4 linked regions of the Homo sapiens genome follow. The protein of the gene in region 4 purifies or fractionates together with the protein of the main gene of each other region. This does not show direct contact. Each region holds a gene or a part of one and is shown on either strand. Other genes may lie near its edges. The genes, in order: POTEF, ZFP1, PPP2R2A and SERTAD4.

Region 1 (8,226 bases), on a different chromosome or scaffold from region 4:
ACAAAAGTTAATAAAGCCTTGTTTTTGGTTGTGAATCTTTGCCTTAAAATACACACAGCTGACCGAGGTGGGTGGATCACCTGAGGTCAGGTGTTCTAGGCCAGCCTGGCCAACAGGGTGAAACCCCATCTCTACTAAAAATACAAAAAGTAGCCGGGCGTGGTGGCAGGCACCTATAATCCCAGCTACTCAGGGGGCCAAGGCAGGAGAACTGCTTTCACCCAGGAGGCAGGGGTTGCAGTGAGCCAAGATCGGGCCATCGTACTACAGCCTGGGGGACAAGAGCGAGACTTCATCTCAAAAAAAAAAAAAATTACACACAATTCTCCCGACTTCCTTTTTCTCTTGCAAAGAGGTGGTGATGAACCAGGTTTGCTCAGGCAGATGACAATACTCTTGAAAATGGTGGCAGAGAGCCAGGCGTGGTGGCTCACACCTCCAATCCCAGCACTTTGGGAAGCTGAGACAGGTGGATCACTTGAAGTCGGGAGTTCAAGACCAGCCTGACCAACATAGAGAAAACCCATCTCTATTAAAAACACAAAGTTAGCTGGGCATGGTGGCACATGCCTGCAATCCCAGTTACTCAGGAGGCTGAGGCAGGAGACTTGCTTGAACCCAGGAAGCGGAGGTTGCAGTGAGCCGAGATCGCCCCATTGCACTCCAGCCTGGGCAACAAGAGCAAAACTCCATCTCAAAAAAAAAAAAAAAAAAAAAGAAAGAAAACAAAGGAAATGGTGGCAGAGAAAATGAAGGCAATACAGTTCACTTAATAATCTCATAAATTAGAACTTACCCCGTGACTCCTGCATAGCTCCAAATATGTGAGAGAGATGAAATGGCTGTTTGCCACCAATATTTTTATGTGATGCTTCATTTTTTGATTCTCTGAATAACTACTTACAACGCATTAGCCCATTTATGCCAGAGGCTGCAATTTTTTGAATTTTTGCACGAGTGAAAAATCAAACCTTCTAATGACCTTGAGCAGTAGGATGTAATTAACTCCCTCATGCTTACCATTCCAATAATGGAACACTAGGCATAAGTGGTTTAACACAATCGTGAAAGCATAGCTATTCAAGTAACTAATTATACAACTGATTTTTTTCCTCATCCCTAAAACATAGTAAAGGACCAGTTATTTTAAAAATACAACACAGTGACAATTTTGGCTTGTTGTTTGTTAAGGCCATTGCTTGGCATAAAGAAAACAAAAAGAGGAGGAGAAACAAGAATAGAAACATGAAATAGAAGCAGCAGCAAAAGAAAATGAAGAGGAACAAGAAGATGAGAAGAATACACAGACTAGAATAAGCAAAAAGAACAGGTGCAGGAATTAGAAGGCCTATTATGACACCTTTTATCCCCTCCCCAATTCACAAAATTTGAAAAAGTCCAAGACCATCACAACAAAAAAGAAGGAAAAAATGGCCGGGAGTGGTGGCTCACGCCTATAATCCTAGCACTTTGGGAGGCCAAGGTGGGTGGATCATGAGGTCAGGTGATCTAGACCATCCTGGCTAACACTGTGAAACCCCATCTCTACTAAAAATACAAAAATAAAATTGGCTGGGCGTGGTGGCAGGCGCCTGTAGTCCCAGCTACTAGGGAGGCTGAGGCAGGAGGATGGTGTGAACCCAGGAAGCAGAGCTTGCAGTGAGCCGAGATCACACCACGGCACTCCAGCCTGGGCAAAAGAGCGAGACTCTGTCTCAAAAAAAAAAAAAAAAAAAAAAAAAAAGCCACACACACACACACACAGTCACCCCCTAAATTTTGTTAAGAATGAGACAATGCTGCCACTCATGCCTGGCTCAGAAGGAGGCCACCCTCCAGAGATTGCAAGAGAAGGGGGAGGACTCCTTTCCCTAAGTGCACCTCCACCACTGCCACCGAGGCCCATGGTACAGCACCAGCAGGTTCGTCCCCACCCCAGGTCGGACTGGGCCCTGCAGTGCTCCTACTCCCCCTTCCCAGTCCCCAGACTTTCTGCCACTACCACCACTAGCACCAATGCCAATACAATTGCTGTCGCCATCAATGCAGCAGCCCACCCTACAAGGTTCCTACCACCTTGCCCCCGCGGGCACCCTCCTACCACTCCTGTCGAGCTGCAGTCTCCGTGGCTGCCATCAGTCACACGAGGCGAGCTGCAGAGTCACGCCACATGCAGGCTCCAGCGTACCACAGGTGATTCCTTCTCCTCCTCCTCCAGCCTGGCTTGGAGCAGCTAGACGGGCAAAGCCAGAAAAGCCTAGAATGGGATGCAGGGAGTGGTAACGTTAGAGCCTCACCTTGTCATGCTGGCCACTGGGTGGCAGGGACCAGCTTCAGCTAAGGCACTCAGACCCACCCACCGAAGTCCAGCCTCTCTTTCTGGCAAAAGGTGGCCAGGAACTGGGGCGGGTGTGAGTGCCTATGCTGAAACCACCCCCATCCAGGTGCAACTGGCCAGAAATTGCTGGGCCCACCAGGGCTGCACTCCTTGGGGAGCAGGAGTAGGAGAAACTCAGACCCAGCCAGCCCTCCCCACTCAACTGCTGGTTCCCATTCCTGACACCTCCACCCACAGTGCCCTGTTCCCACAGTCCCCCGCGATGCCCACTAATCCCCACCCGGTAGTCCCAGGTGGTCTCCCCAACACAGAGCATGGGGTGTGGGCGGGAGGTGCAGGCCGGAGAACCGCAGTGGGTGTGGGGGCCCTGCCCTGCTCAAGATTGCACCAGGAGGAACTCTGGAGTCTGGAAAAGAGAAGAGTCACCCGAAGGAGCAAGGAGACCATGGCTGTTGCTGTCCCCACCACCTCTGCAGCCGACCAACACCACTGGCAGTATAGCCCCCATAGCAACCCTAACCTGACCCCTGCCGCCGGCAGTGTAGCCCCCGGACAGCACACCCACCACACCCTGTGCCAGTTGCAGGCAGTGTAACCCCAATACCCCCCCCAACCACCCCCTCCACAGGCAGTGTAGCACCCGATAGTGCCCACAACCTGACCCAGCCACAGGTGTTGCTGCACAAGACAATGCCTCAAAATCGCCGCCCCCACCCCACCACAGGTAGCGCAGCTCCTGATAGCGCACCCTGAGTAAGGGCAGTGCAGCACCCGACAACACTCCTAAACCACCCCCCGCTGCCAGCATTGTAGCTCCAAATAACCACCAAAACCACTCCCTGCCCCGGGCAGTGCAGCAGAAAATAGTGCCCCTAACCCCTCCCCCGCCACCGGCAGTACACGTTAGTGCACACAACCTGCCTCCCCCCCATCACCCCCGCCACCACGGGCAGTGTAGCCCCGGACAGCCAGCCAAAACCGCCCCCCTCCACCGCCAGCAATGCAACCTCGGAGAGTGCCCCCAACCAGCCCCCTGACACAGGCAGTGCAGCCTCGGGTAGTGAGCCCCAATAGGACACCCAACCCCTGCCCCCACAGGCGGGCAGTACATCCCCGGATAACTCACCTACACCAGGACATTTCTACCACTCTGGCCGAGCTGCAGTGTCCCACGTCACCACCAAACACAGCAAGGCGAGCCCCAGGGGCTCAGGCTCCAGCCTCCAGCATGCCGCTCCCTTCTACTCGTCTTCCTGCCTGGCAGGAGAAGCTCCCGCTACTGGTTGCCCTCCTACCACTGTCGACACCACCAACTGCAGTGAGCCAGTGTCCGAGGCTCCAGCCAGAAACAGGTAGCAGCCATGCCGGATACCAAACGCCCACACTTAAGAGCCTGAAATGACCTGACGCCACCTCCGCATGCTTTACCTACTGAGGTTACGCACATGTGGTTCCCAGACTACATGTTCTGATTGGATGAGAGAAAAACCTCTAGGCCTACTCTGATTGGACTTTATTTTCATGCTGTGATTGGTTGTCTTAAGACTGGCTCTCATCCAATCAGAACATGATAATAAAGTCCAATCCAAGTAACCCTGGAGGGTTTTTCTCATCCAATCAGAACATGCAGTCAGGAATCCTCCTGTATATAATCTCGGTATATGACTGCTGCTGAAGGGAAGTCAGGCTCTTCCACGTTCCCGTATTTTCCTGTGGAGCTGCTCAGTGCCCGGCTTAGAGGACCAGGAATGGGTAATCACCAGCCGTACGCTGGAGGCTGGAGCCGCTACACCGTGGCTCGCCTCGCTGCGACTGGTGGTAACCGCGACCGAGACGGCAGTGCGGCGGAAGCGGTAAGAGGAGGAAAAGAGTTTTGGGATAGATGGAGGGGGTAAAGAGGGTGGTTAGTGCCAAAGGGAAAAGAGGATAGTGAGCAGGAGAGCGCGTTGCAAAAAGGCGGTGGGGAAAAGATAGTGGGAAAAAAAGTTTTTGGGTAGATGGAGGGAGAAAAACGGGGTGGGGAGCGGGAGGGAGGGAAGGTTTTGCAGAAAGATGGTGGGTAAAATGTTTATGGGTAGATGGAGGAGGAAAAGAGGGTGGCAAGGGAGGAGGAAAGAGAGGGTGGTGGGGGGGAGAAACAGCGTTGAGCAGTAGGGAGAGAAGGTTTTGTGAAAAGACAGTGGGGAGAAAAGGTTTTGGGTAGATAGAGGGGGAAAAGAGGGTAACAGGTGGGGGAAGGGAAAAGGGTAGCCAGCGGGAGGAAGACAAGGTTTTGCAAAAAGATAGTGGGCAGGAAAGAAAGACGGTGGAGAAAGAAAAGACAGTGGGTAAAAAGTGTTTGGGTAGATGGTGGGGGGAAAGAGGGTAACGAGGAGGAGGAAAGAGGGTGACGAGAGGGAGCAGGGAAAGAGAGTTGGGAAAAAAATGGGAAAATAGTTTGGGGTAGATGGAAGGCAAAAAAGAGAGTGGCAAGCAGGATAGGGCAAAGAAGAGGACGAGTGGGAAGGGGGGAAGACTGTGAAAAGACAGTAGGGAATATTCTGGGGGGTGGATGGAGGGGGAAAAGGGGAGGTGAGCAGGAGTGGGGAGAAGGCTTTGCGAAAAGACTATGGTGAAATGTTTTTGGGTAGAGAAGGGAAAGAGGGTGGCAAGGAGGAGCGGGGGAAAAGACGATGAGGAAAACAGTTTTCGGGTAGATGAAGGGCGAAAAAGTGGTGAGCAGCAGGAGTGAGGAGAAGGGTTTGGGAAAAGACGGGAGAAAATGTTTTTGCTTAGATGAAGGAGCAAAAGAGGGTGATGAGAGTGGGATGGGGGAAAAGAAGGTGGCCAGGGAGAAAGGGAAAAGACGGTGGGAAAAACAGTGGGGAAAGTGGGTAAGTGGATGGGGAAAAGGGTGGTGAGTGAGAGAGCAGAGAAGGCTTTGCGAAATGACGGTGGGGAAAAATGGTGGGGAAAAAGTTTTGGGGTAGATGGAGGAAGAAAACAGGTGGCGAGGGGGAGGAGGCCAAAGGCGGTCGGGAAAAGAAGGTGGGAAAATAATGGTGGGAGACAAAGATTTGGGGTAGATTTTTTTTTAATCAGATTATTTGTATTTTTGCTTTTGAGTAGTTATTTATATATTTTGTGTATTAGCCCCTTGGCTGATGCATAGTTTGCAAATACTTTCTTCCATTCTCTGGGTTGTTTCTTCGTTCTACTGATTTCTTCCTGTGCTTTGCAGAAGCTTTTAAGTTTTATGTAATTACATCTTTGCTTTTGTTGCTTGTGCTTTTGACAAGTTTAATGTAATTACATCTTTGCTTTTGTTGCTTGTGCTTTTGATGTCTATTTGAAAATTCCTTGTCCTAACCAGTTTCATGAAGGATTTATCCTATGTTTTCTTCTCTAGTAGTTTTATAGTTTCAGGTCCTACATTTAAATCTTTATTTTGAGTAGATTTTTGTATATGGTAAGATAACGGCCTAGATGTATTCCTGTACATGTGGGTGTTGAGTTATCCTAGCAGTTTATTGAAGAGATTGTCCTTCCCGAATGTGTGTTCTTGGTGCCTTTGTTAAAAATGAGTACGCCATAAATGGGTGAATTTATTTCTGATTTCTCTATTCTGTTTCACTTGTCTATGTCTGTCATTCCTTCGTTTCTGTTTCTCCCCCGCCCCTTTTTTTGATAGTATTATGCTGTTTTGGTATTACCATGCTTACTACAGATTTGTAGTATGTTTTGAAGTCAGGTGTGATGCCTCCAGCTTTTCTTTTTATTCCAGATTCTTTTGTCTATCTGAGGTATTTTGCGTTTCCATGTGAATTTTAGGATTTTTTTTTTCTATTTCTATGAAGAATGTCTTTTGTAATTTAACATGGATTGCATTGACTCTCTAGATCACATTGGGTGATATAGACATTTTAACAATATTCTTCTAGTGCATGGACATGGGATATCTTTCCATTTACTTGTGTCTGCTTTAATAGCTTTCATCTGTGTTTTAGAGTTTCCATTGTGGGATCTTTTGTCTTTTTGGTTAAGTTTATCCCTAGATATAATTTTTTTGGTAATGAAATAGCTTTCTTGATTTCTTTCTTAGGTATTTCACTATTGGTGCATGGGCGTGCTACTGATTTTTATATGTTGATATTGTATCTTGCAACTTGACTAAATTATTTCTAGTAGGTGATTTTGTGGAATCTTTAGGGTTCTCTCTTTCTCTGTGTATATATATGATCATGTCACCTGCAAACAAACAGTTTGACTTCCTTTTTTCCAATTTGGATGCCTTTTATTGCATTCTCTTGTCTAATTGCCCCACTTAGGACTTCCAGTACTATGATGAATAAAAGTGGCGTAAAAGTAGCCACACTTGTTCCAGGCCTTAGAGGAAGAGTTTAAACATTTCCCCATTGATTATGATGTTAGCTGTGGGTTTGTCATATATGGCCTTTATTGCGCTGAGATATGTTCCTTCTGTACTCATGTTGTCCAGTTTTTGTCATGAAGGAATGTTGATTTTTATTTTTTTCAGCATCTACTGAAATGATTATATGGTTTTTGTTCTTGATTCGCTGAATGTGATGTCGCACATTTATTTGTGTTTTATTGAATCATCCTCATATTCCTGGGATGAATCCCACTTGATCATGGCAGATCATCTTTTTATTGTGTTGTCAAGTGCAATTTTCAAGTATTTTGCTGAAAATTTTTTTGCATCTGTGTTCATCAGGGATATTTAAAATGCCTGTGGTTTTCTTTTTGTGTTGTTTCCTGGTCTGGTTTTTGTACCATGTACCAGGGTCATGCTGTCCTCATAGAACAAGTTTCGAAGACTTCCTTTCTCTTCATTTTTTGGGGAATATTTTGAGTAAAATTCGTATTAACTCTTTAAAAAACGTTTGGTAGAATTCAGCAATAAAGCCATGATTCTTGTGTTTTTGTTTGATGGAAGACTTTTTATTACTGCTTTAATTACATTACTCATTATGGATCTTGTTCCGGTTTTTTGTTTATCATTCTATCTTGGGAATTTGTTATGTGTCCAGAAATTTATCACTTCTCCTAGATTTTCCAACTTGTTTTTATATAGGTGTTTTTAGTAATCTCTTACAATCCTTCATATTTCTGTGTTATCCATTGTAATGTCTCCTTTTTCATCTATCATTTTGTTTTGTTTTTCTTTTCCTTAGTCTAGTTAAAGCTTGTCAGTTTTGATTTTTTTCTAAAAAATCCAGCTCTTTGTTCCATTGACTTTTTGTATTTTTTGTTTCTATTTTTAAAATTTCTTCTCTAATCTTTATGATATTTTTTGTGCTAATTTTAGTATTTTATTTTTCTCGTTTTTCTCATTACTTCAGGTGTACTGTCAGGTTGGCTATTTGAGATCTTTCTATTTTCTCTGATGTAGGCATTTATAGCTATGCCCTTTTCCTCTTACAACTGCTTTTGCTGCATCCCACAGGATTTGTTATGTTGTGTTTCTTTTTTCAATAAATTTTTAATTTTCTTTTTATTTTTTCATTTATTTATTGGTTGTTCATGAGCATGTATTTTAATTTCCATGTATTTGTACAGTTTTTCCTCCTGTTATTGATTTCTAGTACTATTCCACTGTGGTCAGAAAAGATACTCGATATGATTTCAGTTTTGTTTTGTTTTGTTTTTTTTGAGACGGAGTCTCGCTCTGTCGCCTAGGCTGGAGTGCAGTGGCGCGATCTTGGCTCACGCAAGCTCCACCTCCCGGGTTCACGGCATTCTACTGCCTCAGCCTCCCCAGCAGCTAGGACTACAGGCGCACGCCGCCACGCCCAGCTAATTTTTGTATTTTTAGTAGAGATGGGGTTTCACTGTGTTAGCCAGGATGGTCTCTGTCTCCTGACCTTGTGATCCGCCCCCCTCGGCCT
Region 2 (8,192 bases), on a different chromosome or scaffold from region 4:
AAACCTGAATCTACACAAATAAATGAAAATCTCGAGAATCGTTAAAATGAGGATCAACACAATAGATACTTTTTCTTGCTTTTAATCACTGTGAAAGATTATCTAAAGCAAAAATAGTAGCAAAGTTTTGTGGGTTTACAGCATATGTCAATATTCTGCAACATGTATGACAACAATAATGCAAAAGACGGGAGGATGAAATTGGGAGTATAATGTTCCAAGTATATTGACATAAAACAGTATGATATCTTTAAAGTTCCACTAAACTTTAGGGTAACAACCAAAAACTCTGTTAAATTTTTACAAATATACAATAAGACAACAGTGGAGATAAAATGTAATTATAAAAAAGACCCACTTAAGACAAAAGTAGACAGAAAAAAAGGTAAACAGAAACAAAGACCAAATAAGAAAAACAGAAAAAAACCAGCAAGATGGTAGACTTTAACACAACTATATCAATAATTGGCATAAACACACCAATTAAATAACAGAGGTCAAATTATATAAAAAAAGTAAGACCAAACCATGTGCTGTCTATAAGCAGTTTGTTTAAAATATAAAAACATAGCTACATTCAAAGTAAAAGGATGATCAGTTGTAGGAGTCAGGAAATTAAAAAAAAAAAAGATAAAAGAATGGAAAAAGAGGGTCAGGCACAGTAGCTCATGCCTGTAAACCCAGCACTTTGGGAGGCAAAGGTGGGTGGACTGCTTGAGCCCAGGGGTTTGAGACCAGCCTGGGCAACATGGCAAAACCTCGTCTCTACAAAAAATACAGAAAATTAGCTGAGTGTGGTGGCTCACACCTTGAGTCCTAGCTACTCCGGAGGCTGAGGCAAAAGGATTAGGGCGCACACCTGCAGTCCTAGCTACTCGGGAGGCTGAGGCAAAAGGTTTGAGGTTGCAGACAGCTGTGACTGAACCACTGCACTCCAGCTTGGGCAACAGAGACAGACCCTGTCTCAATCAATCAATCAATCAAGGAAGATTCTACGATCAACAGCACAATATTTATTCAAATACACACGAAACAGTTACCCAGAGAGATCATCATATCCTCGACCTTAAAACAAACTACAACAGGCCTGGTGCAGTGGCTCACGCCTGTAAAGCACTTTGGGAGGCCAAGGTCAGCGGATCACTTGAGACCAGGAGTCTACTAAAACAAAATGAAACAAAAATACAATACAAAAACAAACCACAACAAATTTAAAATAATTGAAATTCGTAACACAGTATTCTGACCAAATCAGAATTAAACTATAAATCAATAATATAAAAAGATCTGGGCCGGGTGCGATGGCTCACGCCTGTGATCCCAGCACTTTGCAAGGCCGAGGCAGGTGGATCACCAGGTCAGGAGATAGAGACCATCCTGGCTAACACGGTGAAACCCCGTCTCTACTAAAAATACAAAAAAAAATAAAAAAATTAGCCAGGTGTAGTGGCGGGCGCCTGTAGTCCCAGCTACTCTGGAGGCTGAGGCAGGAGAATGGTGTGAACCTGGTAGGCGGAGCTTGCAGTGAGCCGAGATCTCGCTACTGCACTCCAGACTGGGCAACAGAGCGAGACTCTGTCTCAAAAAAAAAAAAAAAAAGATCTGGAAAATCTCCAAAAACTTGGAAATTATGCAATACAATCTAAATAAATAAGGGTAAAAAATGAAGTCACAAGGGAAGTTAAAAAAATTTGAATTGAATGGTAATGAAAACACAATAAAAAGGCTGGGTGCAGTGGTTCATGCCTGTAATCCCAGCACTTTGGGAAGCCAAGGCGGGAGAATCACTTGAGGTCAAGAGTTCTAGAGCAGCCGGGCCAACATGGTGAAACCCCGTCTCTACTAAAAATACAAAAATCAGCCAGGTGTAGTGGCGGGTGCCTGTAATCCCAGCCAGGAGGACTGCTTGAACCCGGGAGGCAGAGGTTTCAGTGAGCTGAGTGCCACTGCACTCCAGCCTGGGTGACAGAGTGAGACTCAGTCTCAAAAACAACAACAACAGAAAAGAAAATACAAGATATAAAAATTTGAGTGATGTAGTTAAAGTAGTATTTAGAGGAACAGTTACATCAATAAATTGTGTCTGGCCGGACGCGGTGGCTCACGCCTGTAATCCCAGCTACTCGGGAGGCTGAGGCAGAGCACTACTTTAACCCAGGAGGCGGAGGTTGCAGTGAGCCGAGATCAAGCCACTGCACTCCAGCCTGGACGACAGAGCGAGACTCCGTCTCAAAAAAAAAAAAAAAAAAAAGAAAGTAAAGAAAAGAAACGGTACAATACAAAAATATAGTATTACAATCACATAGGACCACCATTTTACATGAGGTCCCTCGTTGACAGAAACACTGTTACGCAGAGCGTGACTGCACCAGAATCATGGGAAAACTTTCGTATTTCAAAGTAGTGAAGAATTTTGGGTGCCCCAAACGGAAAGAACAGTAAATTCCACCCGAGAGAAATTTAAAACGTCAAAACGTATACATGGCAAAATCTACCAGCGAGTAAAATCAAAAGATAAATGAAAAAATATCTGCTGCTCACATAAAGTACCACCGGGTTGTGAGACCTTAGGGAAATCACTTTCCCCTTCTGAACCTCCCGTGTTCCTGGGATAGCGACGGAGATGATAACGCTGGAAGTCACGGGGTGGATGCGAGGATCAGGGGAACACCTCACTGAAGACCCTCTGACAAAGGGATCACGGTTCTCCTTCACCACCGGCAACTGACCAGGCTCCAGTCCTTCCTCCACCCACGAGGCACCGGGCATCGGGGCGTGGCCAGGTGTGTCAGGCCACGCCCCCACCACGCCCCGGCGGGGCCTCGTCCCGCGCGCGCGCGCCCGCCGGGGCTCCAGAACTCGCTCCCGCGCGGCCCGAGCCCTTCGCCGCCCGTCTGAGGCGCATCTCCTGACAAAGAGAAGAAGGCGAAGCCTCATAGCCGCCCTTCCCTCCGCCGTCCCCGCCCCCGCACGTTCGGCCAGGCGTGCCCCGCCGGCCCCGTTCAGAGGCGAGCGCCGGGCAACCCCGGACGCCGCCCTGAGGGTCACTGCCGCCTACGAGTAGCCGAAGTTTGGGCTCCCACCCTGCGCGGGCACGAGCCCATCCCTCATCTCCTTCCCCTCGGCCCCAGGCCGCGCGGAGCTACCTGGAAGCCCCTCTCGTACCTGGAGGGGCGCAGCCTCCACTCGTGGCCCAGTGCCACAGCGGGTCACGGCGCAGGGCGGCGAAGACGCGCGGAGACGGGGGCTCTGTCACCCACTCGCCGCTGGTGGTGGGGGAAGGGCGGCCACCGGCGCGCTCGCAGCACTGCACATGCGCAGAAACAGGGGCGCGGGCCGTTCCCAGGGTCCTCGGAGGGGTGGACCATCCACGTTCGGGACTACATTTCCCACAAGCCTCCGGGGCCGCGGCTTTAGGGACTCTCAGGAAAGTCTTCGCCTTGTTAGGCGGTCTGATGAGCCGACCAAAATAATCTCCTTAGCCTGCACTGTTTTCTTTTTTCCCAGAGTGGGTCGTGAACTACAATTCACCACCTCCCCCTTAAATACAACAACTTGGCTTTTAAACATTACACAAATAATCTATAACTGTATTTAATTAGAATATATGTACAAAATAAAGTATCCATAATCTCACTTTCTAAAGATTAACTGCGTATAACATTAAGTTCGCACTTTGATTTTTTTGTTGTTGTTACAAAACTGGCCATAAAGGTATCATGTGCTGCAACTAGCTTTTTTCCCTTTTTTCCCAGGCCACTTTGTTGAGGTATATATATTTGTTGAGATCTATATATTTAAGATGTACAACTTGATATCTACATTTGTGAAATATTCACCATAATCAAGCTAATTAACATGTGCATCACCTCACATAGTTATTTGTCTGATGAGAACACTTAAGATCTATCTTCTTAGCAAATTTCAAGTACACAATATTGTCAACTATCGTCACATAGCTGTGCATCTCCCCAGAACTACTCATCTTGCATAACTGAGACTTTGTACCCCTTGACCACCATCTTCCCATTTCCCTTCACCCTCAGTTCCTTTCATCCTTTAGAACAGTTTTAGGTTCACAGCAAAATTTGAGCAGAAAATACATTGAATTCCCATATAACCCATGTCCCCCCAGCACACACAACCTCCCCAAAGTTGATATCCCACACCAGAACAGTGTATTTGTTACAATTGGTGAACCTACAGTTAAATATCAGCACCTGGCCAGGCTCAGTGGCTCACACCTGTAATCCTAGCACTTTGGGAGCCTGAGGCAAGCAGATTGCTTGAGCCGAGGAATTTGAAACCAGCCTGGCCAAAATGGTGAAACCTCATCTCTTAAAAAAAAAAAAAAAATACAAAAATTAGCCGGGCATGGTGGCACGCACCTGTAGTCCCAGCTACTCGGGAGGCTGAGGTGGGAGGATCACTTGAGCCTGGGAGGCTGAGGTTTCAGTGAGCCAAGATTGTGCCACTGCACTCCAGCTTGGGTGACCCTGTCTCAAAAAGTATAAATTAAAAAACAAAATCATTGGCACCCAAAGTCCATAGCTTACATTAGTGTTCACTTGATGTTGTACATTCTATGGGTCTTGACAAATGCCTGTAACCATTACAGTATCGTACAGAATAGTTTCACTGCCCCCCAAAAAATCATCTGTGCTCCATTTATTCATCCATCCCACAACCCCTGGAAATCTCTGATATTTTTACTGTCTCCATAGTTTTGCCTTTTGCAGGTTGTCATATAGGTGGAATCATACATATGTTGCTTTTTCAGATTGGCTTCTTTCATTTAGTAATATACATTTAAGTTTCCCTCATGTTTCCCTCAAGTTACCCTGGCTTTTTTTTTTTTTTTTTTTTTTTGACACAGGGTCTCACTCTGTCACCCAGGTTGGAGTGCAGTGGTGCGATCATGGCTCACTGCAGCCTCCACTTCCTGGGCTCAAGTGACCCTCCCAGTTCAGCCTCCCAAGTAGCTAAAACTACAGGCATACACAGCCATGCCTGGGTAATTTTTTGTATTTTTTGTAGAGATGGCATTTTGCCATGTTGCCCAGGCTCGTCTCAAACTCCTGGGATCAAGAAATCCTCCTGCCTTGGCCTCCCAAAGTGCGGGGATTATAGGGATGAGCCACTGTGCCCAGCCTCAGTTCGTTTTAGTGCTGCATAATATTCTACTGTCTGCATGTACCAGTGTTTTAAATCCATTCACCTACTGAAGATACATTGGTTGCTTCTAAGTTTTGGCAACTATGAATAAAGCTGCTCTAAACATCTGTGTTCAGGTTTTGTGAGGATATAAGTTTCCAGTTCATTTGGGTAAATCGTATGGTTGCGGCCGGGTGCAGTGGCTCACGCCTGTAATCCCAGCACTTTGGGAGGCCGAGGCGGGCGGATCACGAGGTCAGGAGATCGAGACCATCCTGGCTAACACAGCGAAACCCTGTCTCTAATAAAAATACAAAAATAAAAATTAGCCGGGCGTGGTGGCGGGCACCTGTAGCCTCGGCTACTTGGGAGGCTGAGCCAGGAGAATGGCGTGAACCTGGGAGGCGGAGCTTGCAGTGAGCCGAGATTGCACCAATGAACTCCAGCCTGGGCGACAGAGCGAGACCCCGTCTCCAAAAAAAAAAAAAAAAATTAGCATGGTTGCTGGATTGTGTGGTAACAGTATGTTAATGAGACAGGAGAGTTCCCTGGACCCCTTCGCGGGACTTGTCGTGGCTAGCTTACTCAGCCACTGTGCTAAAACCCCTTATGGGAGGGGGAGCACAGAGGCAAGTGGGTGCCAGGGCCAGGGTGAGCACCTTTGGGCTCTGGCCCCATGGTAGCATCTAGGGGTGTGTTACAATTAATGCTCTTCTAGCAGTTGCCATCCATGGACAGCTAAGCGTTAACCAGCTCAGTGGAGAGTGAGGGTGACAGCCTTTTACACCCTGCCCTCTTAATACCCAGGTCCTTGTCCAGCATCCAGAAAGGATCAGGTCACATGGACTTGAAGAATGGTAAATGCAGAGGTTTTATTGAGTGAGGGAGGTGGCTCTCAGCAGGATGGGGAGCTGGAAAGGGGATGGCGTGGGAAGATAATCGTCCCCTGGAGTTCTGCTGTCCCTGGCCAAATTCCTCTCTGACCATCCAGCTACCTCTTCAATGCTCAATTGCTTCTTCTCTTTTCTCCTTCTCCACCACCTTGCTCTGCAGCTCTGCCCCTCTGCCCCTCTGCTGCTCTTCTGTTTGTGGAGCCTGGGATTTGGGGTTCTTATGGGCACAGGATAGAGAGCAGGGTGGGCCACAATGGTCTTGGAAAAGGCAACGTACAGGCGTGAAAACAGGAATGCCTGTTCTCATTTAGGGCCATGGGTCCAAGCTTGAGGGTAAGAACCCTCACCAGGAATCCCGCCCTCCTGCCTCCTGTCCATATCATTAGTTTTGTAAGAGACTGCCAACACTGTCTTCCAAAGTGGCTGCATCATTTTGCACCCACCAACAATGAATAAGAATTCCTGTTGCTCCAATTTCTCACCAGCATTTGTTGTCAGTGTCTTGAATTTTGGCCATTCTAATAGGTATGTAGTGGTAGCAGCTTGCTTTTAATTAAAACAATATCCTCAAACAGGTTCATAGAAAGGTGTTTACACCAATGTTCATAGCAGCATTATTCACAATATCCAAAGGTGGAGACAATCCAAGTGTCCATTAGCTGATGAATGGATACAGTGGAATATTATTCAGCCATATCAAAGAATGACGTTCTGGTACACGCTACAACGTGATTAAAACTTGAAAATACACTAAGTGAAATAAGCCAAGCTGGAGGTAGTGGCATGTGCCTGTGGCCCCAGCTACTCAGGAGGCCGAGGCAGGAAGATCACTTGACCCAGGAGTTCGAGGCTGCAGTGACCTATGATTGCACGACTGCACTCCAGCCTGGGTAGTAGAATGAGACTCTGTTTCTTAAAAGAAAAGAAAAGAAAAAAAGAAAGAAGGCAGACACAAAAGGACAAATACTGTATGATTCCATTTATATGACGTACCTAGGATAGGCAAATTTATAAAGACAGAAAGTAAAACAGAGTTACCAGGGACTGGAATAAAAAGGGATGGGGAGTTAGTGCTTAAACGGTATAGCGTTTCTGTTTGGGATAATGAGAAAGTTCTGGAAGGAGAAAGTGGTGATGGATATACAACATTGTGATGTGAGTGTACACATCAAATTTTTCTGAAGATCTTATTATACCAACATTTAAAAATTATAAATTACCATAACCTATAATCTTATGGAAAGATGTATATACAAGAATGTTCCTCACATTGCCATTTATATTTGCAAAACCTTGGGAAGGATCTAAAAATCTTTTAGTAGGTAAACGTAAAATAAATTGTGGTGATATGTAAGGAGAATTTGGGGAAACACTAAAAAGGATAATGTGTATTACCCACGTGGGGGTTATTTCATTGAGAAATGAAATAATACTGATCACACAAGAATATGTGCAGCGTAATCCTATTTTTGTAAAAAACTATGCATATTTTAAAAAGACTAAACACTGAACTATACGAAGAGAATGGAGAACTCCCCCCACACACACATACACACAAGATAAATTCCCCTTACCGCCTTATGTGTAACAGCACTGAGTAAGCACCACGTGTGTGGGCTGTACTTTTCAAGACCTTCTAAAATTCACAACCACATTGTCCTCTATTAATTTTCCCTGAAAAATAAAGAGAAAGTGTAGCGGGTGTTTCTGAGAAACACATTGCTGACCTGGCCAGCTCATGCAGAGGTTCTAAATGTTGACACCTTTTATTATACAGTATCAAACAACTACATTAATATCACCACTGGTGGCCGGTGCAGTGGCTCATGCCTGTAATCCCAGCACTTTGGGAGGCCAAGGCAGGCAGATCCCTTGAGCCCAGGAGTTTGAGACAAGCCTGGGGAACATGGCAAAACCATCTCTACCAAAAAAATAAACAAAAATTAGGTGGGCGCAGTGGCATGCACCTGTAGTTCCAGCTACTCTGGAAGCTGAGGTGGGAGGTTCACTTGAGCCCAGGAGGTTGACGCTGCAGTGAGCTGTGATCATGCCACTGCATTCGAGCCTGGGCAATAGAGTGAGACTATGTCTCAAAAAAAAAAAAAAAAAAAAAAGATTCACCTCCTGGATCCCCAGAAAAGGGCT
Region 3 (8,091 bases), on a different chromosome or scaffold from region 4:
ATTACATAGCAAACATTTAGGTCAAGAAATAGAACTTCCTACGCTTCCACAAACCCTTCTCTTTTCCCTTCCTCTCCTTTATGAGCCTGTCTTATTAATGATTATTTTGGCCTGCAGTTTTAGAACTTTGAATAGATGGAATCCACAGTTTATCCATTATGAGTAATGTTGCTGTGAACATTCTTACTCATGTTTTTTGCTGTACAATCATGAGTAGAAATATTATGCCCATAGGGTAGGCATTCACTGTTAGCAGACATCACAGTAAAAAGTTCTGCTAATTTTATTCTTGTGAACAGTATATAAATTTTATGGCTGTTCTACATCTTTGCCAGTGCTATGTGTTGTATTATCAGTCTTTTAAAATTTAACACTTTGTGGGTATGAATTAAGTTTGTATTTACTGTTTGTTTGTTTTTTTTTGAGACGAAGTCTTCTTGCTTTGTCACCCAGGCTGGAATGCAGTTGGTGTGATCTTCGCTCACTGCAACCTCCTCCTCCCATCAAGTGATTCTCCTGACTCAGCCTCCCAAGTAGCTGGGATTACAGGCATGCACCACCATGCCCAGCTAAATTTTTGTATTTTTGGTAGAGAGAGAGTTTCACTGTGTTAGCCAGGCTGGTCTCGAACTCGACCTCAGGTGATCTGCCCGCCTCAGTCTCCCAAAGTGCTGGGATTACAGGCATGAGACATCACGTCCGGCCTTGTACTTACTCTTGTGATTCACATTGAGATTGAGTAGTTGTTGTGTTGTTTTGAGACAGGGTGTTTCTTTGTTGCCCAGGTTGGAGTGTGCAGTGGTGCGCTTACAGCTCACTGTAGCCTCAAACTTCTGGACTCAAGTGATCCTTCCCACTTCAGCCTCCCCAGTAGCTGAGACTACAGGCGTGCACTGCAACACTTGACTAATTTTTTTTTTCTCTCTCTCTTTTTTTGGTAGGGATGGTCTCACTGTGTTGCTGATCTTGAACTCCTGACCTCAAGCAATCCTCTGTCTTGGCCTCCCAAAGTGTTGGATTACAGGCATGAGCTGCGACTCCTAGCCAGAGCTGCTTTTTATATGTTTATTGGCTATTTGGATGTTATCTTTTGGAAGTGACTATCGAAATCTCTTATAATTTTCTGTGTTGTGTGTCATTTTTCTTACTGATTTGTAGACTTTCTTTACACTTTTTGTAGATGAACTCTTTTTCAGTTACATTTGTTGGAGGATCCAGGGGCAGTGGCTCACGCCTGTAATCCTAGCACTTTGGGAGGCTGAATTGGTTGGATCACTTGAGCCCAGGAAATTGAGACCAGGCTGGGCAATATAGCAAGACCTCATCTTTTTTAAAAAACAAAACAAAACAAAACAAGAAAACCCACACATTTGTTAGAAGTATTTTTCATTCTGTGACTTGCCTTTTCATTTTTTTGAATAGTATATTTTTATAAATAGAGATTATTAATATAATACAGTTGATCAGTATTTTTCTTAGGGTTACTGGTTTTTCTGTCCTGTATAAGAAATACTTTTCAACCCCAAAATCCAGGGAAGACATTTCCGTTATCTTTTAGAACTGTATGACTGGTACTGTAGCTACTAGATCCATGTGGCTATTCAGATTAATGGGGAGTTGAGTCTGTTCTCTCTCCCCTAATGCAAGACCCTGTTGCAGTGGTCCCTGTCTCCATGGCCCTCTTTAAAGTCAGCCTTACTACCTTATAAATAAGTAAATAAATAAATTTAAATTATTAAAAATAAATTGTAGAATTAACTTCCTTAGTTGCAGTAGCCACATTTTAGGTGTTCAGTGTGTGCCTAGTGCTCAACATGACTAGTGGCAACCATACTGGACAACACAGATACAGACTATTTCCATCATTGCAGAAAAGTTCTCTTGGGTCCTGTTATCCTAAAACTTAATTATTGTACCTTCACATTTATATCTCTTATTCATCTGTAATCACTTTACGAGTGGTTTTGGGAAGGGGTCGAGCTTCATTTTATTTCCTATGAATAGTCAACCTAACACCATTTAGTGAAAAGACCATCCTTTCCCCATTGCCCAGCAAGGCAACCTTTGTCATCATTTAGGCCTGTTTCTGGGCCATCTGTTCTGTTTCATTGGCACATTGGTGTATCCTCATGCCAGTACACAGTCTTTATGACTTTGCTTTAAAACTTGGTTATGATGTCCTTTAGTGAATTCTGTTAGCATCTGTGTTGAAAATGTGTGATTTTGGTTTTGTGTCCTGTGTTTGTAATGTATGTAAAGTATGTGACATAGCTCATTCTAAATCCTGCTTTGAAAGTCTTTATTGAATGCCTGTTATATGTGCCAAGTACTGTTATAGGTGCTGGGGAATAAAGCACATCTAAACTTACTGTAGAAACTTTCATGCAAATAGATTGTATGGTTAGGAAGATGATTCTCATAGTGATCATAAAGGCAAGCAAGAAAAGAGAGGGAGGTGAAAATGCTGTGCAGGTAAAGCCAGTATGAATTGTTGAAGGATGTGTCACAATTCTGTATGACTGTAGGAGAGGTTTTTAAAACAAAAACATTGTGTTTGATTTTGATGCATTCTCATTTGAGTGGCTCAGTGTTGAGTATGCGGTTATGTGTCTTCTTATTCAGGCTTGCTCACTGTACTTTGTTTGTGCAGGGAACAATGCTATCATGATCATTATAATGTAAACATCCCCTCCCAAAGTGTTAGGAAAAGTCTGCTGCAGCTCCCTGTGGTCTACTGTCAGTTACCACTTGTACCCATCTGTTTTATAGCCTCTTCAGTTTTGTTACTGCTGCTGTCATTTCTGCCATTACTCTTTGTCCTGTGGACTTGTTTTTAAAAGTTCTGTTATGATCACTTTAATAAAGTTTCAGGAGAGAGGGGAGGCTAATGCATGTGCTCAGCCTGGCATCTTGAGCTTTTTAGACAGAATTTTCTCCTTTTGTGATACATTAATTTATTTCCTGTTGCAAAGAGATGGAGCTTCTTGCAGTCCACGAAACTGCCATATACCTCTATGATTTTGTTTTTGGATTCTGTAAGATACCATGTTTAGTAGACCTGTGTTGTTGTCCACGAGTCTACAGGAAGATGTTCATGTTTTGTTTCAGAAAATATTTCTGTTGTTTTGTGCTTTTCTTAACTCATCAAATACAATGTGTGGCTCGCCCTTGGCCCTTCATATTGCTTACCTTAATTGTGTAGACCATAACCAGTTTCTACTTTGACTAAAGTTTGACGTACACAAGTTACTTGAATGTGGGGATTCTGTCTATCCCTCTACGCCCTAGTGTACATAGTACTATATATTATAGTCTCTTTAAGTGTTAAATGAAAAACCAGTCTAAAATGCAGGATTTATATTAAAAATCGAGTTGCCTGCTTAATGGTATTGTGGTTTCCTTGTAGACTATAATGATAAATTTTGTGAGACTGGGTGAGTCATTTTAGGTAAAAGATTTGTGGAGCTTTAAAGTGATACTGGAGTATTTATATATGTTAATGGAATAGGCTGTCTAATTTTGTGTATGGGTATGGTGATGAGACCAAGGCTCTGAGTCTGATTTTTACCCCTTGTGTATCCCCGATATGTGGATCGTTTTGTGGGACATGTATTCTTAACATTGGCAGACTTGCCCTCTAATAACTGATAACTGCTGTCCAAGGGTTCAAATACAACCATCCATGAATGAACAACCCAGATCATCAGGCTGCTGGAAAAAACAACCCAAAACATAGACTTTCAAGATGATTCAGTGAAGTTTCCTTTTGATATGGAGAATAGTAATAGGCTGTTTTTATTATCAAGAAGTTCTAAACATTTCACTGGGTAACTCACTTTTACTTAAAATAGTTGACTGTCAATAATATCTCATTCTATTTTTTACTTAAACTTTTTCCATAGGTGGTTCTTTGAACTAGACTTTCAAATTTTTTTATGAAAATGTTTTTAATCGTGTGATAATAGGTCAAAAGATGAAATTCTGAACATGATTATAATTCTCACTTTTGCTGAGATATTAATGCTAACCAGAGTAGTTCAAAAGTAGTCCCTTTATGAGATAGCTTAAATTACATTTTTTCAAAGTGATACTAAATGAAATTAGTCATCAGTGTGTGCCAGGTTCATAAGATGAGAAAGCAAATTTAAGGCGAGTAAGCAGTTGTTGATGGGGGTGCATGGGGCCATTGCTGGGTAGTGCTGAATATGGACTTGATTGGTAGCAAAGCTGTCTGGAACAGTGGTCTTGGGGTGGGAGGTAGGGGTCAAATGGTATCCCTTCTTTTATAAGAGCTCTTTTTTTAAGCTTTCAGCAGCGAAATAACCAAAAGGCGGGCAGCAGAAAGGAAAAGGACAATACATCATATTAAATAACAGATCGGGGAGTTGACCCTAAAGTGGGCATAGGAAGAAGGTGTGCCTCACCTAGCTCTTTCTGGGCAAGACTTTATCATTATTTTTAGATGAACTTCCTTATTATGGGTGCTCAGTTTTTTTTCATCAGTTTTTTTCATAGACTATACCATCAAATACATAAGAGTAAATTAGCAATCAAATTGATCCATATTTAACGTCATTATTTCCCTAATGAATTGAGCTTATTTATTCAGCTTTATTTAGCCTTTTCCCCCGTTAAGTTTTCTCATTTAATCCTTGAAGGCCTTTAGAAATATAAAAAACAGAATGTAATTGTATAAAGACACAACTAATGGGGTATTGAGAATGTGCAGGGTCCTTTGGAATTGATTACATATTTGATTATTTTGAAATATTTTTCAACAATGGTCCATATATTTTTGTTTTCATTTTAGAACAAAATCCAGTCTCATAGCAGAGGAGAATATAATGTTTACAGCACCTTCCAGAGCCATGAACCAGAGTTTGACTACTTGAAAAGTTTAGAAATAGAAGAAAAGATCAACAAAATTAGGTGGTTACCCCAGAAAAATGCTGCTCAGTTTTTATTGTCTACCAATGGTAAGTATACATATTTTCTTTCCATGTGCCCACTGTGTGTACCTGTTGCACATATCCTGTAGCCTAGGAGAGGAATCATTTAACAGAGATACTTGTAAAAAGGACTTTTGTTTTTCTATACAGAATGTAAACTCTACTTTTTTACTGTCACTTGCAGTTTTTAGATTCTCTGAAAGATTCTCTGATAGCAATTTTTTGTTTACTACACCTCCAATTTGTAGTGAAAAGAATGGGCTGCTATACCATTGGATTTAGGTCAGGTAATATTTCTGTCATTTCTCAGTCTCGTAATCTTGGGCAGGTTACTAACACTGAATTGAATTTTCCTCAGCAGCAAACTAGAGATAGCAATTTTTTATTATAGTATTATTATGAATATTAAATAACTTCACATACATCATGAGTGCAAGTGCTCAATAAATGTTAATTTATTCCTCCTTTTTAAGTGTTTGTAAACTACACAGAGTATCTCAAACTGCAGATACAAAATACTCAAAGGATGGTCTCCATTCCAGGATACGCTATAGGAGAGCACTTTCTTACTTGATCACCATTAGCATATTGCCTTCTTCCCAGCAATCCACATGGCTGGAAGGAGATTCCTCTCCTACTGTTTACTTGCCAAGGGAACATTTTTTGTTGTTTTTTGAGACAATGTCTGTCGCCCAGGCTGAAGTGCATTGGTGTAATCACAGCTCACTGCAGCCTCGACCTCCCTACCTCAGTCTCCTGAGTAGCTGGGACCACAGGTGAGTGCCACCACACCCGGCTAATTTTTTAAAAACATTTTTGTAGAGACTGGGTCTCCCTATGTTGCTCAGGCTGGTCTTGAATTCCTGGGCTCAAGCAGTCTGCCCCGCTCAGTCTCCCAAAGTGCTGGGATTACACGTGTGAGCCACTATGCCTGGCCCAGGAAAAGTTGAGTGAGGATTAAAAGTTAGTAATGACAGGCCGGGCGTGGTGGCTCACGCCTGTAATCCCAGCACTTTAGGAGGCTGAGGCGGGTGGATCACGAGGTCAGGAGATTGAGACCATCCTGGCTAACATGGTGAAACCGTGTCTCTACTAAAAATACAAAAAAATTATCCGGGTGTGGTGGCGGGTGCCTGTAGTTCCAGCTACTGGGGCGGGGGTGCTGAGGCAGGAGAATGGGGTGAACCTGGGAGGCAGAGCTTGCAGTGAGCCGAGATCGCGCCATTGCACTCCAGCCTGGGCAACAGAGCGAGACTCGTCTCAAAAAAAAAAAAAAAAAGTTAGTAATGACTCTACCAGAATTTGAAATCCTTTATGATGAGTTGGGTGCTTTCTCTTTGTTCTTATGAAAAACTTTTTCCTGTGAATTGTTTGGACTTTGTTGGGGTCTTGAGTCTAAAGGGAATCATTAGAGTGACTGAGGAGATACTTTAGTTTCTGGGTAGCCGTAGTCTATAAAAATTTGTGATTAAAACTTTTTTGAGGTTGGTGCTAGGGTGAGGGGAACCTCTTATTTTCTCATCCCCTCACTATTAATTTAAAAAGCAAATTCTAACACCTAGACCATAAACATTTGCAGAATATATACTTAAATGACTTCAGGATGAAATGGGGGAAGAAATTCAGCACTTCCTCCATCTAATTGATGCCCCTCGTCCACAGTATTAGTTCTTAGAAATGCTGTTCACAAATGCCTGATGGCCATCAGCGTTGGCCGCCTCCTGGGTGCCCGTTTTTCTGATCATGAAAGCTTTCCCCAGCCAGTCCATTGAGATGCGTACCCTCTGCCTTCTCTGTTTTCACAATAGACTGCATTCCCCTCTCTTGTCCTTATTAGAAGAAAAATAAAGAGAAGTAACTATTTAAAGCCTGTAAATCACAGCACTATGGGTGGAGGGAACAGTTTATTCCTGTCATATGCTAGCTTCTAGTCTTGGGTCAGTTTTAATTTATATGGTAAACTAAGTTATTTCAAATAGCTTCAAATATTTTAGACACTGTTCTTTGGCATCAGATGATACATAATTAAACCATTTATATAATTTCTACTTTTAGAAGTAAATGTTCCTAGGGAAATGTGTTGTTAACATTTTATATATTGGAATATTTTTATGTCAGTTTATTTCTTATAGGGCTACATCAGCTTTCTTATAAAGAGAACTTTTTAAATGTAGGCTGAGTTCAAGAGAATAGTATAGTGAAGCCCTGCATGCTCATCATCCACTTCTGACACTCCTCAGTTCATGGCTAATTTGTGTCTCGGATCCTTCCCCTTCCCCTCCTCCTCAGTGTTATTTCGAAGCAAATCCGATTACAACGTCTATGGATTAAATCTTGTTTAAAGACATTAGAGAATGCATTGTAGATTTTTGTCTTTTGTTTCTTAATACTAAGTAAAATACAGCTAACTGGGGGCTGCATTTTTTAATGCTAAAATAAGTGCTTAATAATAGAGTCCAATGTGGAAGGATAAAGCAGATTATGAGAATCATATGAACTGTTGTGTCTGGGTAGATGGGAAAAGGATGGGAGGAGTAGGACTTGAACTATATCTGAAAAACTATTTGGAAAGAAGGAGACTTAGAGAAAAATGTCAACATCTGTTGATTCTGAGTGATATCTTTTATATTATTTTGTGTATTTTTCTCTGTGAGTTTTTTCTGTGAGCATAGTAACACCCCCCCCCCCCAATATAATGGGTCTATATAAAAACTATATCTGTGGGAGAATGATGGAAAATAGTACCAAACTTTCCAGGTTTGATTAACCAAAATTAATCTTATAAAAATATTTGCATTGGCTTTCCATGATCATTATATGAACTGGGTTTCCCAGATCATTTTTACTTAAAGGACGTCATAGTCACCTTATAACTTGAGTTAATTTAATGTTCCTTCAAGCATTTTAATTCTCTTTCTCTTTAATCTTCTTTTGCTCCTCTGAATTCTCATTAATTCCTCTACATTGCAGAAAACATGAAACTGACCTGTCAACCATGAGTGTTACATATATGAATAATGTAAAGTTCACTCATAAATAGGGTGTGTCTTAACAACTTCTTGATAAGTTTTTTAGGGTCTTACATAAAGCTGCATTCCCACAAAGGAAACGGCAGCGTGGTTTTCCCTGCTCATACCTCTCA
Region 4 (8,091 bases):
CTTTAGTCTTTTATTTAAAAAAAATATTGTATCATATAGAAGAAGCAGGTATCTTTGCTGGTTATATTGATTTGCTTACCAAATAACTCCCTAATTAACTGGCAAACATGTAGAAATTTCTTAGCTAGTGACAGGCTCCTTGGGGGGCAATGGAAATATTGCAAGGGCACATTGTCCCCCAATCTCATCTACTGATCTTTTCCGTAAGAAAACTATGATATACTTTTAAGCATTAAGTCAATCGTTTCCTTGGTAAAAATCACCACATTTATAAGAAGCTCGCTGATGCCTGCTATACAGATGTTTTACGCAATCTGCTCTCCAGGCATTAAAACGACATGGCATGTTCATGGCATAATTTTATCTGTTGTACAAAACTACAAAATCCATTCAAAATAAAATTTACGAGAGCTAACTGATCATGCTGTGCATGCTTCAAAGTTCGGTGAGAAGATGGCTCATATTTTACTTCCTTTGCTGCAGCACAGTTTGTTACTTGGTGGTGAAGCCTCCTTTTTCCGTAAGGACTTTTTCCAAGATTCATTTACATTGTTTCTTTCATTATATCCGGTCTCAAAATAATCATAAAATTGGCCTTTGCACTCAAAAGCAAGGTCATTTCCCACAGGTTCGTGGCTGAGGGGGCCACCATCTCTGTTGGTGTCATCATTTGCTTTCTCATCATTTAATTTGGCCTTTTCCTGAACACCAAGTGATCTGACATTAGTGACAAAGATTTCATTGGCAGGTATCTGGCCATCACTCTTGTAAATAGATGCACTACCTACATCAAAATCCACCTGGCGGGAACAACTCGGTAAAGGCAAAGGGGGAGAGGAAGAGGAAGATGAGGAGGAAGAAGAGGCGGAGGGAGAGGAGGCAGCAGTGGAGGCACTTCCAACATTAGCATTGACAGAAAGGGGTAAATTTAGGTAGTGGCCACCACATTCTTGGTAAAAGCAGCAGGCATGAAACTTTTCACATTCCTCTTTGGCCATCCGTGGTCGTTTTCGGTAAGGGCAGTCTTGAGCCATAAACCACTCTTGGGCAGAGGTGCCATTGAAAGAGCAGGCAGGGAAGCACCAGTTATTCTGCATGATAATTTCTCCATGGATCCTTTTCATCAAATTGTTTATAAGGACAGATCTTCGGAGGTACACTTCAGGATCATCGATAAACTTTAGCTTTTCTAAGGACATATAAAGGATGTGGGCTCGTTCCTCAAAAATTGAGATGGTCTACAAACCAAAAAAAAAAAAAAGAAAAAAACAAACAGAAAAAGGAAGAGAGAAAGCTTAGAAAATGGACTATATGAAAACATCATCATAGCATACTTCTTTCTTGGCACTGTCTGGGTCTGGGCATGTTGTGGTCTTGTTCCGCAGGGTTAATTTAGAGAGGCTGTCCCCCATTCTGCTGATATTCCCTTTCCTCACTTGGCTGGAGCACCCACCCACTTCCTGACTCACTGGTGTGGTCAAGCACTAGGGAATCGAGCCACAGTGCAGGCCCCAGGAGGGACAGTTCAGGTGGTTTGATCTATTATGGCCCAATAAGGAAGATGCTGAAACACAAAACTAATCTAAGCTATTAGAAGTCAGGAGAGGAGGTACTTTCAGAGTTGGGGTGAGCGGGGCGAGGGGTAGTGTTAGAAGCCGGCAGAAGGAAGATTCTGGTTGCTAGTTATGTTTTGGTTCTCGACCTGGATGTTAGTTACATGACCTCATGAAATTCATCAAGCTGTACTGTGATACCTGTACTTTTTTATGTGTGTCTATACAAATACACACACACAGACACATAACTCATATATTGTACATCAATACATGTTTTTAAAATGATGCCAAAATGCAAGTCATAATGAATATACTTCAAACCCTGGTCTAGCCAAGAAGGAGCATGAGATTTGGCTTTTAATGCTGTCCCTCTTTTAATCCTTTGGGTTTCATACTTGCAATTATCCTTGCTTGATAAGAGGACACACTAATGAATGAGGCTCAGACCCTGACAGAATGTGTCAGTTGAAGGACCAAAGTAGGCTTCCTTGTGGAGCTGAGTGGGAGACGAGATGCCGAGAGGAAATGAGAGGGCTCACTCCTGAGCTGTGTGACACTGTCACTATGCGATGGTTGGTGCAAATCCAGTAGCAACTGGGAAACTGCTACAACCACAACACAGAAACTAAAAAGGAAATAAACTGCTTGTGTCCTGGGGACCAGTTATTCCAGGCCATCAAAAAAGCAAACTGGCACCATAACCTGAGGAGCTGTGAACTAAACCAGCCCATACTGACCAAAGGCAGGGACTACACATGCAGGGAAAAGCCCAGTACCTACCAATGCATTCTGCTGTCTTTTCATGAGCAAGGTAAAAGCAACATCTAAAGGATGAGGTGGCAGAGGGGGAAGGCAAGAGGAGACAGAGAGGAAGAAGAATTGAAAATCCTCTCTGCATTTCAGACAACTATGGTCTGTGCTTATACCTGCCTTGATTAAATCAGCAGATAGTTATTGAAGGAAGGTAACTCTAAAGAAAAATGAACTGATATTTCAAAAGCTTAGATGCCCAGATTCATAATTCTATGCAATTTCCCCATCTTGTTTTTTTTTTTAACTATACCTACAAAAAAGTTAGCTTTGGTCTTTTCCTGGAAATGAAGTCCATGTTTCAACAAACTTATATGTAACCCATGTCCAGTGAAGTGCATATTTCTACTTGTATACACACATTCAAGGATGATGAGTCTACCCATAAGAGGTCAGGAAAAGCCCTGTGTAACCACCCCCATGTGGACACACAGGGAAGTAGCATTGGCTGCAGGAGCCAGAACTCAGACTGGGGAGAACATGACAGGAAAGAACGAGCGCATTCCCCACACACAAAAGTGTGGAAGAACCATAACCCAAAACACAGTCTGAGAAATATTAAATCATACGTTAAAAAAAATTCCTTGGATTACATAATTTTGACATTTCTGGGTAGAATAGCTCTTGCCAGCTTTTTCTTCAAGTACTTGTGAAAAATAACACAGGACCCAAAAAAGCGACAACGATTAATGAGGCTCCACTGAGAAGTGGCTCATTTTCATTGCTTGGGTGAAACAATTTAATTCCTGGAAGTGGATCAAGCAACTGTTACTAAGTATCTTAAACTCTTAATAAAAATAATGACTATTAAAAAAACATACTTTATGGCTACAGCTGCTGAGTGGTGGGTGAAAATCCTCTTCTTCCACATACTTCCTCTTAAAGTATGTGATCTTGGATGTTGTTATAGGATTTGAAATTCCCCTGTAATGTGATCCTGTGGTAATAAATCAGATATGACAAATGACATGCGGTTTGCCAGAGGTTCTCCAAACAAAATACTTTCGTTTCCTTTCCTTCTAGAGGATAACTTGGCTACATATTTGTCTGTACATGTGGTGATTAAAAATAAACATTTGTCTTAATAGTTGCTATCATATGGAATCCTGTGACCCAGGCTAGGAAAAGATTTCTAGGCAATTATAGAGGAAAATCACATATTTTAGCATTTAATAAATATGCAGAATCTTAATTCTATGCAAAAGGAAACTGCAACATTCATAAAGGGGAGGAGTGTAATTTCTCTAAAATATATTAGTATTTATTTAAATTGTTTAATTAAATTCATGACAACATAGCACCACTGTTAAAGATGTATACATCTTTAACTGTAACCACTGATAACCAAACAACTTTGAAATCTTATTGGCTTTAGGTTAGTGAACAAATGGTTATCTGCACATTGGGATTATAGCATTCCTTTTTTTCAAAATACAAAATTCAAATTTTTAAAATTTGAGTTAAAATTTTGGGTAACTAATGTCCTTTTCACTCTCCAAAATGTAGTATGCCAACCATGAAGACCACAGTTTTTAATCTTTTTTAGCAAAACAGACTTCATTGAGTACTTGTTTTATATTTTAGTTTCTTTTAAAAATAGCTAATACTGCAAAAAAATCCAAAGGAACTTAAACTATAAGAAGAAAGAATCAGGAAGAACATACTTCTATTTTCTTGGCTTTAAATTTTTTTCCTACAATCCTAAAACCAATTGTGTGCTTTACCCATTTATGCCATAGGTTGCAAATTTTTTTGTGTTTGAAAAGTCAGACCTTGGTGATGACCTTGAGCAGTAGGATATAAATAACTTCCACAAGCTTAGCGTTCCAATAATGGAACACTGGGCATAAATGGGTTAACAAAGAAAAGAAGCTCATAGCTGCTGGCCCAAAGTGCAGATTCCTTTATATCTCATGGGATAAAGGTGTCATTGTTGAGCCCACCAGAGCTTTCATAGTTGTGAGAGAACCATACAGTTCCACAGGGTAGAAAACCAAAACCCAAACTCAGAGTTTCAATATCTGGTTTGGCCCTCTTAAAAATACAGACACATGACTTATATTCAAAAAGCAGCATGGGTAGACACAGGTTTGAATGCAATTTAAATATCACCTCTGGTCCTCTCTCTGGAGCTCTGGACTCACTTATGAGAGGCGCACAGGCAGCCCGGGAAGTCCCTGGAGCTTTAGCTCTCCTGGCTCAGAGGGGCACCCCAGACACCACCTCCTGTCCACCAGGCTGGCTGCAAAGGGCAGCGAGGGGTGGGGGGGATGGGCGCAGGTCAAGGGCAATACCTGCCAGTGGGGGACCAGCTCCCCGGTCTCCCTGCAAAGGAGCTTGTGCTGGCCCTGGGGGGCTTGGGCCTCCGTAGCTGTCAGCCTCCCATAGTGTTTGGTACCCAGCAATTTCAGCAGCTCCTTCCGAGACAATGGGCTCGCAGAATCTATTCATGGACAGAACCAGAGTCATCTCTGACAGCCTCAGATCTGAAAAGAAAAAAAAAAAAAACAAGAATGAAGAAAACAGCCCTAATCAAGAGCAAGCCAAGGGACGGCCTTGGCATCTTCATTTCTTTGCTTTGGGAAACTTTTACTTCTCGGCCCTCCCCTTTACCCTGAAACATTTTATTATTTTTTCAAAGAAAACCTCAGCAAACTCTCTAGCTGCTATTAGCTCAGCCTCTGTGTTCAGCAATCTGCATTTCATGGGCGGATCTTTAAAACCCCATTTCTTATTGTTCTCAGATTCCCTTCAGCCCTCTTCTAGACAGCTGCTTTGCCTCCTAAACACATTTTCCTCCTGACCTTCCAAAGAAAATGTACTGCTAAGAAGCCAAAACCCTTGCGCTTCCTTTCTATTAATAAGGCAAAATCAATTTTCTAGTCAATCCCCCGGGAGTCTCCTTTGATGAAATCCACTAATCAATCAAAAGAAAAGGGCAGGGGAAGCAGAAATATCCACCGTAATTCCAACTGATGCTCTGAGGTTCAGTCTGTTCCGCTGCCCCCTGCACCCTCCTCCTCTCGTTTCCGCAGGCCAGTTCCTCTACAACATGCTGGGGCTCCCTCCACTTTCTTCTCCCAAAGCAAAGCAGACAGAGAGACACTTGGTAGTTGTTTCCACCAGCCCTGATCGGCCTGAACTGGATCTGCCTCCAGTCAAAACACTGCGAGATGAAGACAGAAAATTGGCTCCAGTTTCAAGCCGTGAGTTGCAGTCCCACAGGAGCCAAGCACAACATCAACGGAGCAGGCAGAATATTAAACAGGAGCCAGGCTCTGGGGCCAGAGGCAGCCAACAACTCTTTACACTGCAAAGCCCAGACACAGAGCAGGAACTTTCCAAGAGGCAACACATCACTGCCCTTCTCTCCAGTTCACGCCCTTCTCCCTTGGGCCTGCAGGGAGATGGGAGCTTCTCTGCTCTGTGAGGCTTCCTGGGCCCCTCGATAGCTCAGGCAGTGAGGCCGCTTTCATGGGGGCTCTGTGTCTTCACTTGGCCCTTTGCAGGTCTCGAGGTAGGGTCAAGAGTAAGTTCAAGGGAGAGGAGAGTCTGATATGAAGGTAAAAAGACCTAGCAGCCATAGACCAGTGGTGACAGTAGCGCAACCTCAGTGCCTCCTTAACTGCCAATCCCTTTAGGAGACTCAAGCCCCCACTATCTCATTCTGTGGTTTCAAGAACTGTCACACAAGTGACGTCAGGCTTTCTGAAGATTGATTGTCTTTCAAACATAAACTAAGGGCCCAGTTCTTGCTTTCTTTTCCAAATTATACAGCTTGTAATGTTTCTGGGAAAGAGTGAATCTACCATTGTCTCGTGGGAGACTATTATTACCTACATGCTATAACAAGGGTCCACTTCCAAGGAAAAAGAGGAAAAACACCAGGGTAAGGCGAAATAGCATCATTAAAGTGACAATGTCCTTCTGGCTAAAAGAGCAGCTCTTGGCAGCAATGACTCTACCTTTCACCCAGTCTTCTCTCTGAGGTCTCAAATTCTGTCCCAACCACACTGAATAATGAAGCAAGATCTTTTGACAGACAGGGAAGGTGTACAGGTCAGTGGAGAGAATTAGGACTCAGCTGGTTTGGGCTGCTACAACACCTCCCCGTTCTCTTTTAAGATGCCCTCCAAAGAGACATCAGTACGGACTTATTAGTAAACCTTAAAACAAGTGGGCAAAAGAAAGGTTCGATTAAATCTTTACAAAGAAACGATGGGACATGTCATTTATTTTTCTCTTTGAGTCATCAACAAAGAAATTTAGCCTACATTGATTTAACAAATTAAGTCCTTCTGTCTATCATTTCTCAAACTCCTCATCCAAGTAGGGTATCAAACTTCATGATGATTTATTCCCTGGAAGACTCTCATGAAATTGTCCAGTTTCTTCACCTATTCTAAGAGACAATCATATCAGGAAATACTATTGCCAAGAGCACATGAATTACAGCTTTTCAACAGTCAGCAGCCCTTTCTTATTGAGAGAATCAACATTTTCTAGTTTGAAGTTTACACTCACTTTTGTGTTAGATCATGGGAATAAGATGCAAGCCTTTTGCCTATGCAGACTTTTATTTCATGTAAACAAAAGCAGGTTGTCAAACTCATGCCCCTTAAGAAAGAAAAACATTTGCAGGCTCCTGGCAGCAATTACTTTTGTTTAACAGGACATTATATGGGCCCTGTGCTGTTTTATGTTTGTCAGAGTTTGTTTATATTTTAATAACTTTTTGGTAGTACCTTTTTTGGTTGTGAGGAATTTCAGCGTTTCTATTTGTTAGCATTATTTCCAGCATATCCTATTATGCACGTGAACTTGAAACATGGCATAACAGTATTTATCTTGGCTATTATTTTGTTCACAATATCTAATTTTACTAAGTTTTTCTTTTTTAAATTGAGAACTGTTACACACAAAACCCTAAACTAGAGAGGCTGAGTTCTGCAAGTGATTTATGTAAATCTGAATAAAACATGAATGAGTTGGGATTATTTGGGAGCGGGGAGGAGATTTTGCAATTGAGTCTTCCTAGTCTATTTAAAACTTACACTGGATGTTAACAAATTAAGAAGGCAAGTTGAATGTTCACGAAAAATTGGACAGGGCAGCGTTAAGCACAAATGCTTAACGTGAATCTTTCTTCGTATTATATGTAGAGATCTAAACTGTCATAATTCTCTGTCTGATAAGATTTATAATTCTGCTACTGACGTCAGCAATTCAAGTCCACAAATTCGTGTTCTATTAATATTAAATAAAGAAAAGGATATACATTATGGCAAAATTTATTTTCTAAGATCAGAGGTGATGGATTCAACAGGAGGGTGTTAGAGTGTGTTTTGTCTATGCATGGGTTTAAAAGATAAGAAAAAAAAAAGCCCTAACCCTTCATCCTCAGGCTCCTGAATGTCTGTTTTGACACCCAGGTGGATGTAGTGGAATGACACTTCCAGCATCCCCAGAAGACTGAGGGCTAGAATGCCAAGCTTTTCCAGCAAATGTTCGTAGTAAAGTTACCAGGCATTTCTATACAATTTGTTTTTTTCCAGATGAGTTGGGCTTGTTCTTTCCTAGAAGCAATTATGATGCTAATAGGAGTGGCTGGCACACAAAACAGGGTAGCTATGAATTCAGCGGCACCTTGAATCTAACAAGGGGCTCCAGGTCATTCTTTGCTCACTTCTTCTTCCATCTGTCATTGAAAATTGGAGAGCATTTG

What was found.
Region 1: the proteins of SERTAD4 (region 4) and POTEF purify together in Homo sapiens (affinity purification with mass spectrometry; 3 studies listed by BioGRID and IntAct, with this or other methods). This does not show direct contact.
Region 2: the proteins of SERTAD4 (region 4) and ZFP1 purify together in Homo sapiens (affinity purification with mass spectrometry; 3 studies listed by BioGRID and IntAct, with this or other methods). This does not show direct contact.
Region 3: the proteins of SERTAD4 (region 4) and PPP2R2A purify together in Homo sapiens (affinity purification with mass spectrometry; 4 studies listed by BioGRID and IntAct, with this or other methods). This does not show direct contact.

The regions. Positions count from the first base shown.
Region 1 is NC_000002.12:130,125,608-130,133,833, forward strand, and holds the start of POTEF (POTE ankyrin domain family member F), read right to left. Parts: upstream 3,616-8,226; 5' UTR 3,465-3,615; intron 2,258-3,464; 5' UTR 2,102-2,257; intron 1-2,101.
Region 2 is NC_000016.10:75,143,617-75,151,808, reverse strand, and holds the start of ZFP1 (zinc finger protein 1 homolog), read right to left. Parts: upstream 3,286-8,192; 5' UTR 3,166-3,285; exon of another isoform or gene 3,147-3,165; intron 2,909-3,146; exon of another isoform or gene 2,770-2,908; coding exon of another isoform or gene 2,542-2,769; intron 1-2,541. UniProt on the Homo sapiens protein: May be involved in transcriptional regulation.
Region 3 is NC_000008.11:26,349,658-26,357,748, forward strand, and holds part of PPP2R2A (serine/threonine-protein phosphatase 2A 55 kDa regulatory subunit B alpha isoform), read left to right. Parts: intron 1-4,810; coding exon 4,811-4,976; intron 4,977-8,091. UniProt on the Homo sapiens protein: Substrate-recognition subunit of protein phosphatase 2A (PP2A) that plays a key role in cell cycle by controlling mitosis entry and exit. Involved in chromosome clustering during late mitosis by mediating dephosphorylation of MKI67.
Region 4 is NC_000001.11:210,234,705-210,242,795, reverse strand, and holds part of SERTAD4 (SERTA domain-containing protein 4), read right to left. Parts: intron 5,511-8,091; exon of another isoform or gene 5,328-5,510; intron 4,853-5,327; 5' UTR 4,836-4,852; coding exon 4,661-4,835; intron 3,304-4,660; coding exon 3,188-3,303; intron 1,239-3,187; coding exon 459-1,238; 3' UTR 1-458.